Homo sapiens: one gene and its partner. The protein of the gene in region 2 purifies or fractionates together with the protein of the main gene of each other region. This does not show direct contact. Each region holds a gene or a part of one and is shown on either strand. Other genes may lie near its edges.

Region 1 (10,436 bases), on a different chromosome or scaffold from region 2:
AAAATACGGGACTGATTTTTTAAGTCTGAGCCAGAGACAAAGAAACTGCATTTTTAACATAGCACCCAGGTGATTCCGATGCACTAAGCATATGAACTATACTTTGAGAAACAATAGGCTAGAAATTCTTATCCCCGGATGGAAAATCTCTATTAGACCACCTGAACCCATACATAGGTCTGCTGCTCCTTAAAATTAAAAAAAAAAAAAAAAAAAAAAAGACTCAGTAGTCTTTTTCAAATCCTGTCAAATGTTGTCAGCATGGAAAACAATTTCAGTGTCTGAGCTAATTCATCAACCAATGAACACGATAAATTGAGTGAGAATTAGAAGTGAAACTTTTAAAAACCTCATACACCATTCACTTGCCTAGAAGCCAATGAGGCAAAATTGTTATATCAAAGCATCCTAATAGATATAATATTATCAATACATTTTATACTATATACACTTTTTTGTTGTACACGTTTTTAACAAACTCTATTTTTATTGAAATTATTAGGCCATCAAGACATAAACTCAAACAGGATTTATGTAAATGTATATTTAAGAAGGGGAATCTGAATTATTTAGGGTCTAATCTATTATTAAATGACCTAATGGATAGTCACAGGTGTTTTGGACCCCAGTCCAAGGGTTGGAGATGAGCTTTAAGACCCTTACTAGTCAAAGTGTGGTTCCGGGACCAGCAACATGAGCAATGTAGGAACTAGTTAGAAATGCAGATACTCAGGCCCCACCAGACATACTGAAAAAAAAAAAATCTGCATTTTTTAACATAATAACCAAATGACTTAGCTGCACATAAAAAATAAAGAAAACTTTCTTTCCAGTGTTTCAGTCCTGATCCTTTCTAAATTTTCCTGGCTGTGGACTAATTCCCAGTACTATTCCCCATTTCTCCCATATATCCACACCCCATTATTTTTATTTCAGATGGTCATCTCTCGCTTCTTGCTCTTATCTCCAAAGGGAAAACCACACAGACTCTAACTAGGAACTCACAGGCTTCATTCACAAGTTTTCCTCTTTTAACCAAAGAAAACGTAGTGAGCTGATCAATATCTTTAAATAATCTGCTAGCAGACCTGAGCACATCCAGTTTATTTAAAGCTGCAAGTGAATAAAATATAGCTAGTATAAGGGTATTCACACCATTAACTGTCCTCCCTCCTTGCTTCAAAGCCTTGCTTTGCTCTCTCTAGGACTGTGCCTCAGTAAAAAGTCCCTTCAGAATTAAAAAAAAAAAAATCACTTTTCCTGTGTAAAAAGAACAATGCTATTACAAAAAAAATGGTGCCACAGACTCTCACAATTTGTGTTTCAAAAAGCCACTGCTGCTGCTAAATCACCGCTACTGTCCTGGAACCATTATGAACATGCTAATCTATGCCCAAAGCAATATTAGTATTATTGTTTATTTTATTTTCATTATAGCCCAAACCAGATAGGCTGCTATAATTCTGCTTTCTCCTGGTACGAGACTGGGAAAGAAGATATAATGATAACAAAGAAATGCCAATTGTTTTAGTAAATAACACTGCAGAAGTCATATATCATTTCCCATTTTCCAATTGCTCCAACTCCTATCAAGTTACTAGAGACAGCAAGTCAATGTGCCTGGTGCTGGAAAAAAATCATTCAGGTAAGCTGAGGCTACTCCTTCTGTTTCTCCATCTGCTAAGCTGTTAACACAAAGACATATTGACAAAAGCTCAAGGAAAACATGGAATACTTCATCAGTAAGATTATGCTGCCCTAGAGACAGATGTTAGAAAGCTGTAATATTTAAAAATAAAGAGATAAACACATGGTTGAGAGGAAAGAATAAAATAATTTAGCGTTGAGATAGAATATTAAAAAGAAAAAAGGAAAAGATGGAAAGATAGATTTTATCATACTGTATTGGCACAAGAAATGGCAAATCCTTTCATGTAGGGAAAAACTTTTATATCTGCCTCAGGCAATCATTTACCATTAGGCAGACATTCTTAGAGTGCACTAGGGTAGATCTGTAAGAACTGCTTAGCAGGGCTAATTACGATTACACAGAAAAGACTTACCTCTTGTCACCAGATAAAGTCCAGGCTTTGACTTAAATCCATACACACCAGTTTTCATAAAAGTTTAAACATGAAAAATGTTATATACTTTGGTAATTCACATTCAGTGAACATAAAAACAACATTAAGTAATGATAACTCTGGATTTATCTGGTAACTTTTACTGCAGAGGTCAAGGTACTTTGTCTTCACTTATTTTTACTAGAGAAAAATAATAAAAATAGATTATAATTGTAGGTTATATAAATATTTACAATTGACATACAGTAGCCATGTATTAAGCAAACACATTTTTAAACAGCAGATTCTCCATTTTTGCTAAAATTTTAACACATTTATAAATAAAATGCAAAGAGTAGGAACAGAAAAGTAGAAGGAACTTTGGCTTTGAATTCAAACAGAATTGGGTTCAGATCCAGGATATTTAATTCACTTCTCTGAGCTTCAGTTTCCTCATCTGTAAAACAGGGATAATACTACCTACTTTACAGGGTTGCTGAGAGGGTTAAATATGTAACTAATGAAGGCTCCAGCATTGTGTGTGAACACTGCAGGTACTCAATAAATGCCAAGTGACATAATCACAAAAAAACTAACACAAACAAGCACATTAGAGATTCCAATTTAATTACCGTTTGTCCTTTTCTTAAAATCTCCAAGTTCTGATTGTACAGTAGAAGCTCCTAACTTAACACCTTTTCCCACTGGGAAGGTGATGCCCTCCTCCTCAAAAAAAAGGGAGGGGGGAATAGTATAAAGGAGGAGTTACCAGAGAAAGGAAAAGGAAACTGAATACTTCTTCCAGGAAAGAGGAGGAAGAGGGCATGAGGTCTGACTTCATGGTCCTGACTACTTCACCTCCTCAAGGATGAAAACTCAGGTAAATAATGGTTAAAAAACAAAAACAAAAACTGAAAGCTGGAAATCTTCAAGAGTTTGCCCTGCTTCCTGTTCATCATTCTAAAAGGAGAAAAACTTGCAGGATAACCACACCCAACAGAGGACTACTACAAACAGAATAAAATGGCAGCGTAGTGTGAGTAGGCCAAGAAAGGTTCTGTAATGGCAGGTCTCAAAGTTCCTTGGCTGTTGTGCAGTGGCTCTTGTGTCCAGGTATTCCTTCATGATCCCAGCAGGATATGTGAAAGGTGGTTGTTTATAGAGTTAAGAGTGAGAAGCCATTCTGGTCACTGTGAGATGATCCCCACAGCAGATGCTGCAGAGCAGACAGACTAAGCCAGGGTTCACAGAGTAGATGTGGTTGAGACATGAGGACCTGAAATGCTGTTGAAAAATGAGAAGAAAACAAATGAGAAAGGGAGAGCTATAAGCTCTGACAGCTCTGAAAGAATACTGGTTTAGTTAATGATAGACTGGAACAGCAGATAAAGAAACCCAGTAACTAGTTTGGACTAGATATATCTCCATGGCAGTCAGTGAGAATTCAGATGACTGCACAAAGACCACACACAGATCTGGGGCTCTCTCCCCTCCCTGCCATAAGAACACATGAACCTTTCCTGACATCTAAAGGACATTTCTGCCAGGAGAAAGGGACAGGAAGAACACCAAAAAACTGGGATTTACCCCCAAAGAACCTATTTTAAAACTAAAGAAACTGAGATCATTTTGCTTGTCATCTTTAAATTCTATCTCATCCTACTCCACTCAAAAGAAAATTTATTCCAATTCTAAAGAAATGAAAGGCCTTTTTAGCTCTTGATAAGTTAGATGCAATGTGTCCAACTCTATAAGTCATATTTTCTTTCTGAGGCCTGGACAGGAAACCAAAATAACCATAATGTTTCTTTATTCACAAATTAAAGTGCCCTAATTACATCAGGTAAGAGGAAGTAGGTAATTATATCAGGTAAGAGGAATCATACATACATTATTTTTCTCTCCTTTAAAAAAATTTATTATATGGGTAATTTGAGAGGTCCATTCATTCATTCATTCAATAAATATTTACTCAGTACCTTTTCATCTATCATATGCACACAGAAGTAAATAAGATTGAGGCTGACTATTATGCACAGAGCAGTTAAAAAGCATTTTTGTACAAAATCATTGTTATAGAAAATTCTGTTGCCAGAATAACAAGTGAAGCCAGTTGTAAGAGGTAATACTATGTAAAATCTTATTTTTTAAAGTATATTTGCTATAACAAAAGAGACACAAGATATGGAGGAACAGGTCAGAAAGACTATCATCATTGCCTTTTTCATTTTTGCATGAACAGGCATGCAAAAGAAGTTATATAGCTGTTTTAGTTATCTCAGTAAATACTGCTTGAAAATTTTAAGAAATTAAACTGAAAAAGTCAAATAACACTGTAATAAAGGCTATAGGATAGTTTGTTGTTTAAGAGTATAGGTATTTTTCATAAAGATTCCCTTTAAAATGTTAGTATTATAGTCCTTTTTTTGAGACAGGGTCTTGCTCTGTCACCCAGACTGGAGCACAGTGGTACAATCATGGCTCACAAGAGCCTCAAACTCCTGGGCACAAGTGATCCTCCAGCCTCAGCCTCCTGAGTAGCTAGGACTACAAGCACGCACCAGTATACACCACCACGCTGGCTAATGTTTTTTAGTTTTTGTAGAGACTAGGTCTTGCTATGTTTTCAAGGCTGGTCTTGAACTCCTGGCCTCATGCAAAGCTCCCGCCTTGGCCTCCTAAAGTGCTGGGATTACAGGCATGAGCCGCTGTGCCCACCCCAAGCCCTTAATGTCTTGCTTATTAAGTTCAAAGTTTTACATTATCAGGTTTTCTTAAAGGTGGGCTATGGAAGCCTGACAAATACATGCTATTTGTCGATATGGTGTTATAAACATGAAACAGAATACTATGGCTTTACTTTAAAAAAAAATCCTATAATTTTCCAAAGATATTTATCTATAGAAATGGCATTGTAGAATATTTTCAGAAAGGCTTTTATGGTGGCTCTTTGAATCATTGCCCATTCAAAGAATTTTAAATATTCTATCTAACCTCCTGTACCATAAAGCCCATTGGATTTCATATACTAGAGCATAGAGTACAAAATTTAGGAAAAACCTCTGCTTTTATCAGTTACTTCTGACAAAGTTGGTATTTCAGTCATCCTACATGTACATCATACACTGATTGAAAGGTGACATTGTTAGAGATTATAAATAATTCAACAAATGGCATCTATCTGATTAGTATTTCAAAACAATATTTTATCTCTTCCCAACCCCCTCTTTATCTTCATAGAGTGCAGTTGCATTTGAAATCTATGGTTTCTGGCATATCTGGGGTAAGGTTATACTACGAATTTACCAGACCTGTCAGTCTGTAGGTTTCTTCCATATTTCATTATATCATTCCAGTTATAATTAGTTGTCTGGTAAAATTAAGAACAGTCTATTTCAGTGACTGCTCATGTGAACATTTAACAACTTTTTGTTAGAATGACAGTTTAGCGACACAAAGAATAAACCAGAAAGGGAGAGTCACTGAAGTAACCTTACTTAACTCAATGTTGCCAGCTCAATTGAAAACACTAAGATTTTGCATTTTTTTCATTTTTGTTATTAATAATCAAGCACATATTTCTTGTCAAGAGATAAGCAGCAGTTTGATGACATTCCTGCCTCAACCAGCATGTTTTGAACTGACCTGTCTTCATTGCTATGGCTCCCAAGAAACTCTGCCGTTGACAAGCGTTGATTCAGCTGAATGCTTTGACATTTAGCTTGTCAGTGAAAGCTATTTTAATCATTAAGATGCATTTCCCATCCAAGATTGCAAACTGTTGCTGCTCATACACAACATTCTATCATTTGATTACCGTGGAGAAGAAGAGAACCTGAAAAGTTACTCTTACTATCGATTATATTAAGAGCTAAAATTTATTGATTATTTTACTGTGTGTGAGGAGTTGTGCTTAGCAATTTACATAGATTGACTCATTTAATCTTCTCAATCATGGAGTCTGACCACCTGAGTTTGCATCCTTGTTTTCCACTATCTGTATAACATGCAGCCCTCCCTGTGACATGATTTCCTCAACCACAAAATGGAGTAATAGTACCTACCTCACAGGCTTATTATGAGGAATAAATGAAACACATCATTAACAGTGCTTAGAATTAATACCTGCAAAACAGTGCGTTTTCATAGTGTGAAGAGCAATTTTTATTACCATTTTTTAGATGAAATCAACCAGTTCTTCACCAACTGTCCTGCTCAGCATCACTTCTAACTCTGTCTCTGTTCCCAAATCCAAAAGTACAGATAGGGAAAATGAAAAATATTTTTTTTAGGACATTTTTTCTATAGGTATTTGAACTCCAGCTCCACAGGAGGGAGCACCACAATTGTAGAAGGATAGTACTTTTGCAGTATGAGCCTTTTAAATGTTTTTCCTGTTCTTTCTTTCTTCACTGTAGCCTTTCTCCATTCAGGGAGCTAGACCTATGTGCTGGTGAATCCCTATTAAATGGGATGCAAGTGAAGATTTAGACAGTTTTGGGGACTTCAGAGGAGAGGGGTCATTTGTCCCAGGTTTAATTAGTGGCATAATGGCAGCAAGATAACAGAATCCCATAGTTTTCCACGCCCAAGTTTGTGAAGCAGCAGAATAAATATATGTCAGGTGTTTATGTAGACAACCTCAGACAGCCTAACAGAGTTCCCTGGGCCATGCCATGGAGTGAGAGCAGCTGTATGATCCCATTGCTTCTAACTGGGCATGGAAGCAAAACTTCTCAAAGTCCAGAGCACCACTAGGATGTTTCCTATTGTGGCAGAAACTATGCTGTGTTGTTGCTGAACTCCTTCCTTTCTTTCCTGAGCACAAAGCTAAACTAAATATCATAGCCTCCCCTGCAGTTAGTTGGGTAAGACTTGACTTTTAAAACCTTTATTAACCACTATATACATTCTTTTCTCTCATCTGCTAGTTGAATGTATATGAACCAGTTGAAGGTCTTATGATCCTAGAAAATGACAAGAGTCATTGAATTAGGAGTTCTTAACCTGGGATCTATTTAATAAGATGTAGGAGAACCATGACCTTGGATTTGGAACAAAAACAATTCTGTATTTTCATCAACCTCTAACTGAAATCTGGCAATTCTTTAAATTATGAACATAGGAATCAATGCACAGTAGTATTAGCAATACTTGAGACTTTGTCACCAATAAAACTCATAGGTATTTTCATATCACATTATAGATACTTAAGGTATCTTAAATATCATTTATACTAAAATTTACTTTGAAATAATAGTAATTATTAGGCTATTCAATATGCTAACACAAAGCACATATATTACAACAAAAGTATTTTTAAAATAGTTTGATAACTATATCAATGAAATTGTTTTCCTTTGTAATCTGGTATAATTTTTACATCTTTTAAAAATTTTTCTGCTTCACCAGATTGCCAAAGGGAGCTACAGAAAATTAAGAATCCCTGTCTAAATGATCCCTGAATGATACCATGGAGTAGGGTCCATCTTTTCCCCTCTACTCCACATCACCACCACACTGATGACCCACATTGTACTATGATGTGAGAAATAAGATTTTATTGGGTTAAGTTACTGAGATTTGGAAGTTAATTTTTAGAGCAGTTAGCCTGTGCAGACTAATACTCATATACCCTTGCTACCAAAATGGTAAGAGACCTCCGGTTGGAAAAGACCCAGAAGTGAATCCTGAGGATCAAAGATTGGATGGGGCCATTGAATATGTCTCAGCAGATAACAACTCAGAAAGACGGTGAAGCTCAGTCTAGGAAACATTTCCTTCAACTTAGAAATAAAGTTCAATTACGGTATCATAAAGAAACAGTTCAATTATTCTTGAATTTGTATGCTGAAATTTATAACTGTGACACAACAATGAATTTTCTTATTTATTATTTCTCTCTTCTTTTACTACAGTGGCAGTTATTTTGTTTCTCATAGCAGATATTAAGTGCTTTTGAATTCATCAGTTTTATAGGTGTGTGTGTGTGTGTGTGTATATATATATATATGGTTTTAAAACAACCTCTGATTAGCTCTGTTCTCAGCTAGAGTTTAACAATGAAGAGAAGCAAATAACTACAAAGATGAGATCAATACTGTGTAAGTCCTTCTACGAAGGAATTTGAAAGTTGAAATTTTTTTTAAAAGGTTTGTGCATTCAAAGAGTCTTGAGAGAGCCCTCCAGGGTTTTCAAGACAGGTGTAAATTTGACAACGCTTTCTCAAGGCATCAAGTTTTAATTTCATCTTTGCTTTTAGACTGTTCTGCCGGCTTTATTTTTTAGAAAAAATGAATCAGTCACTGTGAAACTTTCAGGTTATTAAAAGTCAGATGCAAAATCTCCTCTGAGGACAGATTCTTTCTAACCACCAAAGACTTACTGTATCTAAATTTTTATAACATACTGAACTGTAACTGAATGAAAATAAAATGGGATTAGTGTGTTATAGCTTCGGTTTTGGCATTAAAATGCAAAAAAAAAGTCCATTTATTCTTAAATGCTATATAATATAAACATCAGTCTGTCTTGATCACTGCTGTATACTCAGCTCCAAGCCTAATGCCTGACAAATATTTTTATGAATGAGTAGACTAATCAAATAGCACTTACTGAAATTATATACAGAATACACTATTTATGACTAGACTTTGCCATGAGAAGTTGCTGCCTTTCATACATGTAAGGGTAAGGTGACTAGATTAAGATGTTAAAGCCTGTAAACTGCCAGTAGCTCACCGACCCTTGAAATTCCTAAGGCGATACAAAGTCCTTTGATGGAAGAAATACTGTGGTATATTATTACAATTAAGTTGTTTCTAACATACCAATCCTTTAAAACTTAGTTTCAGTGGTTTCTTAGTATTAGCATAAGTGTGTATTAAGAAGTACAAGAGCTGGGCGCGGTGGCTCACGCCTGTAATCGCAGCACTTTGGGGGGCTGAGGCAGGCAGATCACAAGGTCAGGAGTTCGAGACCAGCCTGGCCAATATGCTGAAACTCTGTCTCTACTAAAAATACAAAAATTAGGCCGGGCACGGTGGCTCATGCCTGTAACCCCAGCACTTTGGGAGGCCGAGGCGGACGCATCACGAGGTCAGGAGATCAAGACCATCCTGGCTAACACAGTGAAACCCCGTCTCTACTAAAAATACAAAAAAATTAGCCAGGCGTGGTGGCAGGCGCCTGTAGTCCCAGCTACTCGGGAGGCTGAGGCAGCGGAATGGCGTGAACCCGGGAGGCGGAGCTTGCAGTGAGCCAAGACAGTGCCACGGCACTCCAGCCTCGGCGACAGAGCTAGACTCCATCTCAAAAAAAGAAAAAAAGATACAAAAATACAAAAATTAGCCAGGCGAGGTGGCGGGCGCCTGTAGTCCCAGTTACTTGGGAGGCTGAGGCAGGAGAATAGCTTGAACCCAGGACGTGGAGGTTGCAGTGAGCCGAGATCGCGCCACTGCACTCCAGCCTGGGCGACAGAACGAGACTCTGTCTCAAAAAAAAAAAAAAAAAGTACAGTAATTGTTTTGGCTCTTTAACTTTTCATGCTAATTTTCACACATTCGAAAGAGTAAATGGCATAAGGAACCCCCTAAGTACCCATTTCCCAACCCAACAATTATCATTGCCATTCTTATTTCATTTTCCCTCTTTCAATCTTTTTCTTCTTTTTTTGCTGGATTATTTTAAAGGAAATCCTAGGCATCCTATTATTTCAGCTATAATTATTTCTGTATGTATCTTTAACAGATAAGGACTTTCTAAACATAATACAATACCATTTAGCTCCTCTAATAAAATTATTAGTAATTCCTTAATATAGTCCCCGTTCAAATTTTGCCTGATTATCTCAAAAATGTCTTATACATGGTTTGTTTGAATCAGTATCCAAACAATGTCCATAGCAGTTGAGTTTAATGTATCTGTAAAGTTTAACAGAAAATGCTTCATCTTTTTTTGTGTGTGTGCCATTTATTTGTTGAAGAAACCAGGTCATTTGTTTTGTAAAAACCTCTCATTCTGGATTTGGCTGTTTGCATCATGGTATAGTTTAACAAGTCCCTCTATTTTCTGTAAAATGGTAGTCAGATCTCATAATTTTCTTTTGGAAAGAATATTTCATAGGTAGTACTGTGCACTTCCTGTTGCATAAGGAGACACATATTTGTCTCCACGTTTAGTGAAGACTGACTACACTGACTTCAAGTGTTGTCAGTCTGATCCATCATTACAAAGTGCTCCAACTTTTACCTAATGCTATTAGCCATTGATGACTCTTGGCTGGGTCCATTATTTCATCAAGAGTTGGAAAATGATGATTTTATATTTCTATCATTATTACTAACTGGAATTCCATAAAGAAAAAAATGCCTT
Region 2 (10,436 bases):
TGTCCATTAGTCATCAACACAGGGCCTTGCCCTGGGCCAATCTGGGAAAGGGGCAGGAAGTAGCTGTTTCTATCCTTGAGCCACAAGATACAAGCAATGTTTGTCCTGAGTGCACATTGTCAGCAACAGAATCGACTTTCTAAGTGAAACCGGCGTGTCTTTTTCCCCAAAGCCCTAAGAGCTCTACATACTTATATTACTAGAATTAAACATGATCGAAGCTCGAAAAAGAATAACCAAACCCCAAACTGTATTAATAACAAACATTACAGTGGAAGGAAGGAAAGCATGCTATGTAGACTAACATGCTTCTCTTGGTCCCTGGGCAAAACCACATGTTTGGCCTTGTCCTGTCTAATCCCAGGGCAGAGCAGGCAAGAAAAGCTCCAGGGAGGGCCTTGGAGGCTCATCGGGGAGTGTCTGGTTCCATGGTTAGTAATATTAATAAGGGGACAGAAGAGGCTAAAGGGTGAAAGCATGAAAGAGGCCCATTCATACCTGCCTGGGATCGGGTACGGGAGGAGAGATATTCATCCCCCATCCTGAGTCAGCACTACCCATGGTCACGTGGGAAGGGCATAATCGGGCTCCAAGGAGGGCGGTCCCTCCGACAGGAAAAGTTAAGGCCTGGTGAATTCACATTACAGGACTGAGGAGACTAAGGGGGCACATTCTGGGGGTGGTAAAAATGCATTTCATTCCCTCCAGGGAAAATGCTGGGATGACTCATTCCTTAGGGAATCCTGTCAGAGATGGACCTTTCTACTCAAGCCCAGACTGAAACTCACGGGAAAAAAAAAAACGAAACCGTGACAATCCCCCCCAGGGCTTGTCTGGGCTTTTATCTGGATATATAAAAATGGATTAAGAGGATTCACAGTGCACAGGCCCTGATTTGTTCTCCTTTGAAAAGATAAGCTCACATAGAGTCCCAGTTATTTCTGCGTTTCAAGGCTGTGCACTACTGTGCCAAACATCCTAATCATTTCCATGTAAAATACCTAAGCTATGTGTAAGGAGAAGGAATTTCTGCTAAGACATGTTGGGGTTAGGCAGACACAAGGAGAAGGAACCCGAATGCCAACGTAAATTGAGAGCAAACTGCACAGATTCCACACCCCTGTATTTTTACTATAAAAATGAAAAGATACTTAAAAAAAACTGGAAAAAAATTAATACTGTTTTCACCTTGAAAACGAAATTTTAAAAAATAAAAACAAAGCCAAGCTTTTATCCATTTCACTAATATAAGAGCAGGTTATTTTCCTGGCAATGGAAATATCCTCAACAAAAGTTTATAATTTCCTCTTGGAGCCAAAGAAACCATTTCTTCCAAAAAAAATGGCATTTATTCTACTGAATGTATTTTTTTTATTGCCATTAAGCAATCTTAGTGAAGTATAGTTAAGATGGGGTTATATTTTTTCTTTGTGTTTTTCCTGACTTTTCCAAATTTTCTACCACGAGTGTGTATTACTTTTGCAATCAGAAAAAGGTTAGTACACTCTTTTAAATTAATAAAAAATTCAGTTAACACTTAAGATGTCAAAAAAGCACCCAAGTAACTGCTTCATGGGTGCAGAATTTTATTTTAGGGTGAGGAAAATAGTTTGACACTAAATAAAGGTGGAGAATGCATGACATTGTGAATATACTAAATGCCACTGAATTATTCACTGTAAAATGATTAATGTTATGTGACATGAATTTCGTCTCAATTATAAAAAAATGAAAAAAATAGCACCCAGTTCCTTCAACTTTTCTCAAAAGCAGTTACCTTCTCCATGTAACAGCGATGGGTCTAGGAGCTCCATCATGTACTCGATTTCAGTGTCCAATTCAAGCATGTCACACTGGGCTATGACATAGGTCAGGACTGGCAAGAAGTCATCAGCGCCATACATCCTCCCTGAGAGCAGGAAGAGAAGGAGATGGAATATTTTTACCAACTTTTCTTTCTTTCACATCCTTCTTGCTGCTTTTATTAGACAGCAAGGAGTCACTCTGGGGGGAACTGTGCTATTTATAAACAGAGGTGAGTGTTTCTGGAATCCTATGTAGCCTCTGACCCTCCCAGCTGCTAATGTTAGAGACCAGCCCTTACAGTTTCAGAATGAATGTCTATGAACCAATGAACACATTACAGATTTTCTCCCTACTTTTATAATTTGTATAAAATTATGTGATAGAACAGAATACTCGTTAAAATATTTTAACTTTCAGCAAACAAGATTATAAAATGCTTACAAAATATTTACTTATGCTAATTCTTTGTGTCTTACTTCCTCTTTCTTGCTGTGCACATTATTTACAAACATAATGACAAGGTCAAACTCAAACCAGGAATAAGCTAACTTTGCTCTGTATTTAATGTGAGCACACAGTTAATTTCTTTAAACGTGCCAATTCAGTACATGTTGAATATACACATTGATTAATGGAAATATATGGCAAAAAATGTTAGTGTTTACTTCTAGTTTTCTTTACATCAGTGGTTCTCAACTGGAGATAATTTTGTCCCCCAGGGGACATTTGGCACTGTCTGAAGACATTTTTCATTGACATAACTGGAGGGTGGGGATGCAGATGACATCTGGAATGCTGCTAAACTTCCTACAGGAAGCAGGGCAGCCCCCAAAAGAAGAATTATCCTGTCTACATTAATGTCTTTAGTGTGTGTGTTGAGGAACTGTGCTTCAGAAGAGCATAATCCTTCTGAATTATTTGGGGAATTCAGATATTCAGATATTATTTGGGGAATTTTTATAAATAACTGTGAACTATAGAAAATATGTTTCCTATATGTGAAATATGCTTGCAAACTTGTGAGGTGATGTTCACTTGCTATCATTACCACGCCCAGGAGCTCATATTTTAACTTCTTCACTCAACAATTCCCAAAGTGCACACACATTCCTGTCTACTCAAGCAGTGGTTAATACAGCCTGTGTTTTCTCTCTGCTGCTTCTCCATTAAGCAATTTCACTCAGAAGAAAAGTTCGTAATCGTCTTCAGAATTACAATAAGCTTACTGAAGACCTGGGACAATGCAGGGCTCCATTACTATCCAGGATTCATGGTTACCCCTGCATCTACAGGAAACAACAAGGCTAAATCTGAGGGCTGGCTTTCCAAGATTGTAACTCTTCGGTGAATTTCAATTATATTGCTTCAGCTTGTAGCAAAGAAGGGCTAGCCAATGAAGCGGCTCTAATGAGGCCTCATTATAACTGAATGTTCAGAGTTTCTTTCACATACTATAGGTCATTGACACAAACCCTCATTGGCCAAAATGTTGTAATGATAATCGCTGACATTTCCATTGCACTTGGGGCTATGTGTGGGCTGTCTCAGCTAATCCCCACCTCATGAAAGAAAGGGTGACATCCGGCTAAAGACGCAGAAAACTACAGCGTGCAAGGTTGATTAAGGGGGCCAAAGTCCCTCAGTTAATTTTCTTCTTCTCGGAGGGAAGATTTGAACTCAGACTCCAGAGACTGAATTTGTAACCATACTCTGAACTAAATCTTTAATTAAATCGGCCTGGTACAAAAATCTTGTTGCCCTCATCTGCTTACATTTTAATCTGTTGCATGTGACTAATGTGCCGGATATCAGAGAATCACTTGTAGTTCTGTAAGCCACTTGGTGAAATCAAGAGACCAAAGGGAGGAGAAATTGGGAATCAGAAAGCCTGACAGGAGAGAGGCCTGTCCCCGGCCCGGAAGGGAAGCGGCACGAAGCCTGGGCTTCCAGCGGCCTCACCTGAGTTGTTCTCCATGACCGTGTAAATGAGCTTGCAGACCCGCAGCAGCAGCATGACCTTCTTTTCCGGCGAATACATCTTCTGCATGGTCATGAACTTGACTTTGATTTTCTCCACATCCACAAAATCAGGGGTCGGGGCGAAGACCCCCAGCTCCTGCGGATTCCTCTGCCGCACAAGCTGCAGGTTCTCCTTGAGTTGCTTCCATGAGCCATCGGCCATGTGAAAGTCCTTCAGCATGGCCTCCACGTGCCCCTTGAGGGGCTTCAAGATGCACTTGTGCATGGCTTTTTCCAGCACCACATCTGCCAAAGAAAGTGTAGCTACTATGACTATTGTCTGAAGAAAGAAGAAATGCAACATCTGCTTTCTTACAATGGACATCTGCAACTCTATGCATTGGTTGCAGGCACACAAATTGTACACCTTAACATCCAACCAACAGACAACACCAAGCAGCGCCATAACTCACATGTTAACATTTTTCTCTGAAAAGCCAGGAAGACCGAATCTTCCCCAATGATGTCTAACTTGCATATAATCAATACAATGAAATATATTTGTTTTAATTACTTTCATGCCCTATCCCTGTAAGTACAGGCAAATATGCTAGAAGACATTCTTTTGACCTAGTCCTTCAACTGGTCATCCAATTAACAGGAGAGCAAAGATGTTATCTTAAAGGAAGGATTTTCTAATAATGAGCATTCAACATCTCTTAGAATATTTTCTGAGGGCCAGGCGTGGTAGCTCACATCTGTAATCCCAGCACTTTGGGAGGCTGAGGCAGGCAGATCATTTGAGGTCAAGAGTTGGAGACCAGCCTGATCAACATAGTGAAACCCCATCTCTACTAAAAATACAAAAAAATTAGCTGGGCATGGTGGTGCACGCTTGTAGTCCCAGCTACTGGGGAGGCTGAGGCAGGAGAATTGTTTGAACCCAAGAGGCAGAGGTTGCAGTGAGCCAAGATTGTGCCACTGCACTCCAACCTGGGTGACAGAGTGATACTCCATCTCAAAAAAAAAAAAAAAAAAAGAATGTTTTCTGAGGAAATAGATCCACCTAAATATAGTATGTGATCTTGGATCAGATTCTGGACTAAAAAATTCTTCATTTGCTATAAAGGACATTAGTGGGGCATCGAATACAGCCTGCAGATAAGGTAATAGTGCTAACAAGGCATCAGTGTTAATTTTCTAGGTCTGATAATTATACTGTAGTTATTAAACAGAATAGCCTTGTTTTTAGGAAATATGCATTGAAGTATTTAGGGGTAAAGGGATATAATGTCTGCAACTTAAATGGTTCAGAAAAAATGAGAGACAGTGTGTGTGCACGTATTTGTGTGCATGTATGTGTACGTGCATGTATCTGTGTGTGTGCACGCGTGTGTGTGTGTGTGTGTGAAGAGAGAGAAAGAAGAATGAGGCAGATGTGGCGAAGTGCTAACATTTGGGAATCTGAGTGAAGGGTAGATATTTCTTTATGATATTTTTGCAACTTTCCTGGAAATCTGAAATGATTTCAAAATTAAAAGTTAAAAATGTGTGAAATGTGTTTCTGTTCCGAGTTAGGAAACACCTTTGGGTGTGGGAGGCGTTATTCTTCCCTCCTTCATTGAATGGTTTCCCAGTGGAGTAGCTTTCTTGGCTAATACTAAAATGACCAGTACCATAAATCCAGAGATGCGGGCTGAAGGCTATTTATATAATAATAACTCCTCTGCTTTGTCAATAGCAGCTTTTTGACCTCACACGTTTGCACATTCTCATCTGAGCCCCTTGGGTTCTGCTGCAGCATCTACGCATAAAATGATGACACCTTAATTTTATTCCATTTGGGAAGCCAATGGGTCCACTTACATATAAGATCAGAAATAGTTAAGTTAGGCCAGGCATGGCGGCTCATGACTGTAATCCCAGCACTTTGGGAGGCTGGGGTGGGCAGATCACTTGAGGCCAGGGGTTCAAGACCAGCCTGGCCAACACAGCGAAATCCCATCACTACCAAAAATACAAAAAATTAGCTTGGCGTTGTGGCGCACACCTGTAATACCAACTACTCTGGAGGCTGGGGCATGAGAATCTCTTGAACCCTGGAGGCAAAGCTTGCAGTGAGCCGAGATCCTGCCACTGCACTCCAGCCTGAGTGACAGAATGAGACTCTGTCTCAAAAGAAAAAGCAAAAGAAATAGTTGAGTTGTCTCTCTGGCCTTTGGAATTCCTGACGCTGGATCAGATCTTATTGAATTCAAATGATTACCTATTATTAGAAGGCCAGGGACAAAGATAAATCTAACGCAGAGGTACAAACAATGAAAACAGTCCCCCAAGGTTAAAACTGAGGCCAAAAGTTAACGCTGACCCCACAATCATCAGATTCCCCAGCCCAAGTTGTTTTTTTCTTTCTCCTCTTCCAACTTATCCAGGAGATCTCTTTGTTTAAATACAAAGGTTTATATAACTATAGAAATCAAGGTTGATGCGAAGGAGGTTATAAAGTAGGAAAAAAAGCAGAACAACTTATTCACATCTGGCATTAAAACAAATTACTTGGTTTACATTGGTTGCTTTGTGTTAATAAGCTCGTGCAACTTCATAGCATCTTTGACTTTACCTTATATCATCATTATGATAAAAAATTAATAACAGAAATTAATATTGAGTGCTCAGATGGGCCAGCCTCCATCTAAGTGCTTTACTTCACTATCATCTAATCCTTGCAATAATTCTATTATTTTTGCACAATACTAATATTATGTCCGTTTAACAGATGGGGAAACTGAGGCTCAGAGATGACTAATGGCTTGATAGAAGCCACACAACTATTTTAAATAACCATTTATACAGCTTTTCAAAGTAAATAATCTTTTAATTGTAAAGTTCAAGTCACTTTATAAATACTCGCCAGTTTATTCCTCTCATCCAAACATTCTGAAAGCTACATTCATGGTTGTAAGTGACCACTACTTGGTTAAAATAGGGTCACCACGGGAGGACAAAGGCCATGTCAGTCATTAATTAGAAACGTAAATGAATGTCCATAGTAATGTTATTTATAATAGCCCCAAGCTGGAAATAACCCAAAGGCCCATTTGGACAGAAATGAATACATTGGATATATTCATTCAATGGAATACTACAATGAAATTCAGACAATGGAATGTATTTATTCAATGAAAAAGCTCACATTACTGCTCCAGAACAACATGGATGCATCTCATGAACGCAAGGCTGTGTGAAAGAACCCAGACACAAGAGTATCTCCTACAGCATTTCGTTTATATGAAGTTCAAAAGCAGGCAAAACTAACCTGTGGGACAGAAGTCATGATGGCAGTCCCCCTTGGGGAGGATCTGGGCCAGGACAGGACACCAGGGATTAGAGATGTTCTGGATCTGGATCTGGACTGTGTCTACATGGGTGTGCATGTGTGTAAAATTCTGTTGAGCCGAGTACTTAAGATTTACACACTTTATGGATGTAAGTTAAACCTCAATAAATGTATATGAATCAGAAAAACAGAAAACAACTAAAGACCTGGATGAGATTTTCACCTTGAACCCCACGGGCAACTGTTATCATCAGAGTGAGCCCGGTCACCTCTGGGCCAGAGTGTTAATACAAATCATCCCCAAAAGGCTCGCAGCTGCTTCTGGGGAATGATGACATCAGAAAAGTCGTTACTAGCAAGTTGGACAGGCTCCCTTGAGCAACTCATCCTTGCTGCCAGGGAGGGGTGCTGGCCTTCGAGGGGAATTCCACCCTTGGGTATAAAAGGGGCTGTGGAAATCTCTTAGGAGGGTTGAAACCTAGGACCAATTGCCAAGGGAGTAGCCCGTTTTCTGAAAATAAAATGAAAAAGTAATTGCTAGTGGTAGATTTTAGGACATTTTTCTTTAAAGACCATAATTTAAAAATAAGGAAACTGGTCCCTGCATTTTTTTTTCAGAGGTTTATCCCACTCCTCCTCCCCACCCTCCCCAAATCCTTAATAAACATAAAGAGTAGGGGACAAGAGCCTAAATGAAAAGAGGGACCCACGATCCAGCTGGCTCTCTCCAATAGGAAAAGCAAGCTTCTGCTCATAAAGCGAGAAGGAAAAAGGATTTGAGGAGCCCAAGGAACAGACGATCTTTCATAACATGAACCACCTCAGACAAAAGAGGAAAGAACAAATTGGTCACATTTCTCATAAATTACTACTCTCCATTTTTTTCTATGATCTCTTTTTGCATTAATCGTTAATTCCTGGACAAAAAAACAAAACCTTTTAAACTCTCAGAACAATGACACTATTCTAGCCACTTTACCTGCACTGGATCTTCAAATCCTCAGACAAACTCCATCCAGGGAGGCCTACTATGTTTTCATTTCACAGATGAGGAAACTGAAACCCAAGGACATCTTTGTCATGCAGCTATCAAGAGGGAGAGCCAGGACTGGAACTCATAAAATGTTTCCTGAGTTCTTGGAGTAATGTCAACTGTATTCATCCACAAGCACGCGTGCAAAACAAACACCTGAAACCTTTACAGATGAGTAAGATGAGTATATGCTTTTAAAGCTCATTAAGGTCTTTTTGTTGTTGCTGTTGTTGAGATGCTGGGGGTCTCACTATGTTGCCCAGGTTGGCCTCGAACTCCTGGTCTCAAGGGATCCTCCCACCTCAGCCTCCCAAAACACTGGGATTATAGGCATAAGACACCATGCCCAGCCTCACTCATTTCTTTTCTATTTTTCTAGTAACAAGCAAATAGTAAAAAATCGTTTGAACCACAACATATTGAACTTTAGAAACTAAATGTTTCTAAATGATCAAAACTGGAAACAAGTTTTCTGAAAATATTTATCAAGATTATATCAACTGGCCCCAAAATAATCCATAAGAGGAAAGTGGTAGAGGCCATAGCAATTGCTGGCTTTTCCTTGACTAAATGTCACTTACTGTAATAATTTATAGGAAGTATTCAATGTGTTGGCTTCTAGACAAGAAGTGATTCACTCTTATTACTTCTCCAAGAATTGATTCACTCCTCCATTAAGGAAGAGAGACAGAAACCTTGACCCTTTCCTTCATGCTGACCACCTACTGCATGGATTCCAGAGGCTGGAGATAGACAAGGAAACATCACAAGACCAGCAATTCAGTGGCTTTGTTTGTACACTTTCTGCATTTCCACTGCTGGCCAGAAGGCAGTGAGACTTTGAGAGGCAAAGCTGAAGACTGGAGAAATTGCTTGTGTTAGAAAGAGCCCTGGGAGCCGTGGGGAGGCCAAGTCCCTTCCCCTCTCACTGCCACTGTCTGGACAGCCATCAGAATCATTGTCCACAGAAGGCAAGACAGAGCCAGCAGTCTGAACCTAACTGAGTTGGTGATTGTTCAAACAACACAAAGTAAAAATCAATACTCTCCAGGGAATCTAACCACACCCAGAGTCTAAACCATGTAATATAATCACATGCTTCATAATGGCGTGTTTTGGTCAAAGATGAACCACATATGCCAGGGTGGTCCCATAAGATTCTTATTTATTTTTTTGAGACAGAGTCTCACTCTGTCACCCAGGCTGGAGTGCAGTGGCACAATTTTGGCTCACTGCAACCTCCATCTCCCAGGTTTAAGTGATTCTCCTGCCTCAGCATCCTGAGTAGCTGGGATTACATGCATGCACCACCACACCCAGCTAACTTTTGTATTTTTAGTAGAGATGGGGTTTCACCATGTTGGCCAGGCTGGTCTTGAACTCCTGACCTCAGGTGATCCACCCACCTCAGCCTCGCAAAGTGCTGGGATTACAGGTATGAGCCACCACGCCTGGCCCCATGAGATTCTGTTACCGTATTTTTACTGTTCCTTTCCTGTGTTTAGACGTGTTTAGATATATAGATACTGAGCATTGTGTTACAGTTGCCTACACTGTTCAGTATGTCACATGCTGTCCAGGTTTGTAGCCTAGAAGCAGCAGGATATACCATATAGCCTAGGTATGTAGTAGGCTATGCCATCTAGCTTTGTGTAAGTACTCTATGATGCTCCCACAACAACAAAATTCTCTAACAGTGCACTTCTCAGATGTATCCCTGTAGTTAAACAACACATGATTGTATTAAAAATGTACAGGTGTGTGATGTCCCCCACCCTGTGTCCAAGTGTTCTCATTGTTCAATTCCCACCTATGAGTGAGAACATGCAGTGTTTGGTTTTCTGGTCCTTGCGATAGTTTGCTCAGAATGATGGTTTCCAGCTTCATGGGGGCCTGTTGTTGGGTGGGAGGAGGGGGGAGGGATAGCATTAGGAGAAATACCTAATGTAAATGATGAGTTAATGGGTGCAGCAAACCAACACGGCACATGTATACATATGTAAAAAACCTGCACGTTGCACACATGTACCCTAGAAGTATAATAATAATAAACAAAAAATGTACAGGTTACAACCTAAAGTTACTTGACAAAGATACAACATGAGGTTAGGGTGGGAGGGAGGTGAGGGTGGAAAAATTACCTATTGGGTTACAATGTTCATTATTCAGGTGATGGGTATACCAGAAGCCCAGACTTCATCACTACGCAACATATGCATGTTAGAATTCTGCATGCGTACTTCCTAAATACATAAACATATTTAAAATTTAAAAATCCATGAGTTTAGATCATGTGACCTC

What was found.
Region 1: the proteins of RIN2 (region 2) and NAA11 purify together in Homo sapiens (affinity purification with mass spectrometry; 2 studies listed by BioGRID and IntAct, with this or other methods). This does not show direct contact.

The regions. Positions count from the first base shown.
Region 1 is NC_000004.12:79,314,445-79,324,880, forward strand, and holds the end of NAA11 (N-alpha-acetyltransferase 11), read right to left. Parts: intron 3,348-10,436; 3' UTR 2,203-3,347; downstream 1-2,202.
Region 2 is NC_000020.11:19,983,641-19,994,076, reverse strand, and holds part of RIN2 (ras and Rab interactor 2), read right to left. Parts: intron 4,072-10,436; coding exon 3,766-4,071; intron 1,910-3,765; coding exon 1,778-1,909; intron 1-1,777. UniProt on the Homo sapiens protein: Ras effector protein. May function as an upstream activator and/or downstream effector for RAB5B in endocytic pathway. May function as a guanine nucleotide exchange (GEF) of RAB5B, required for activating the RAB5 proteins by exchanging bound GDP for free GTP.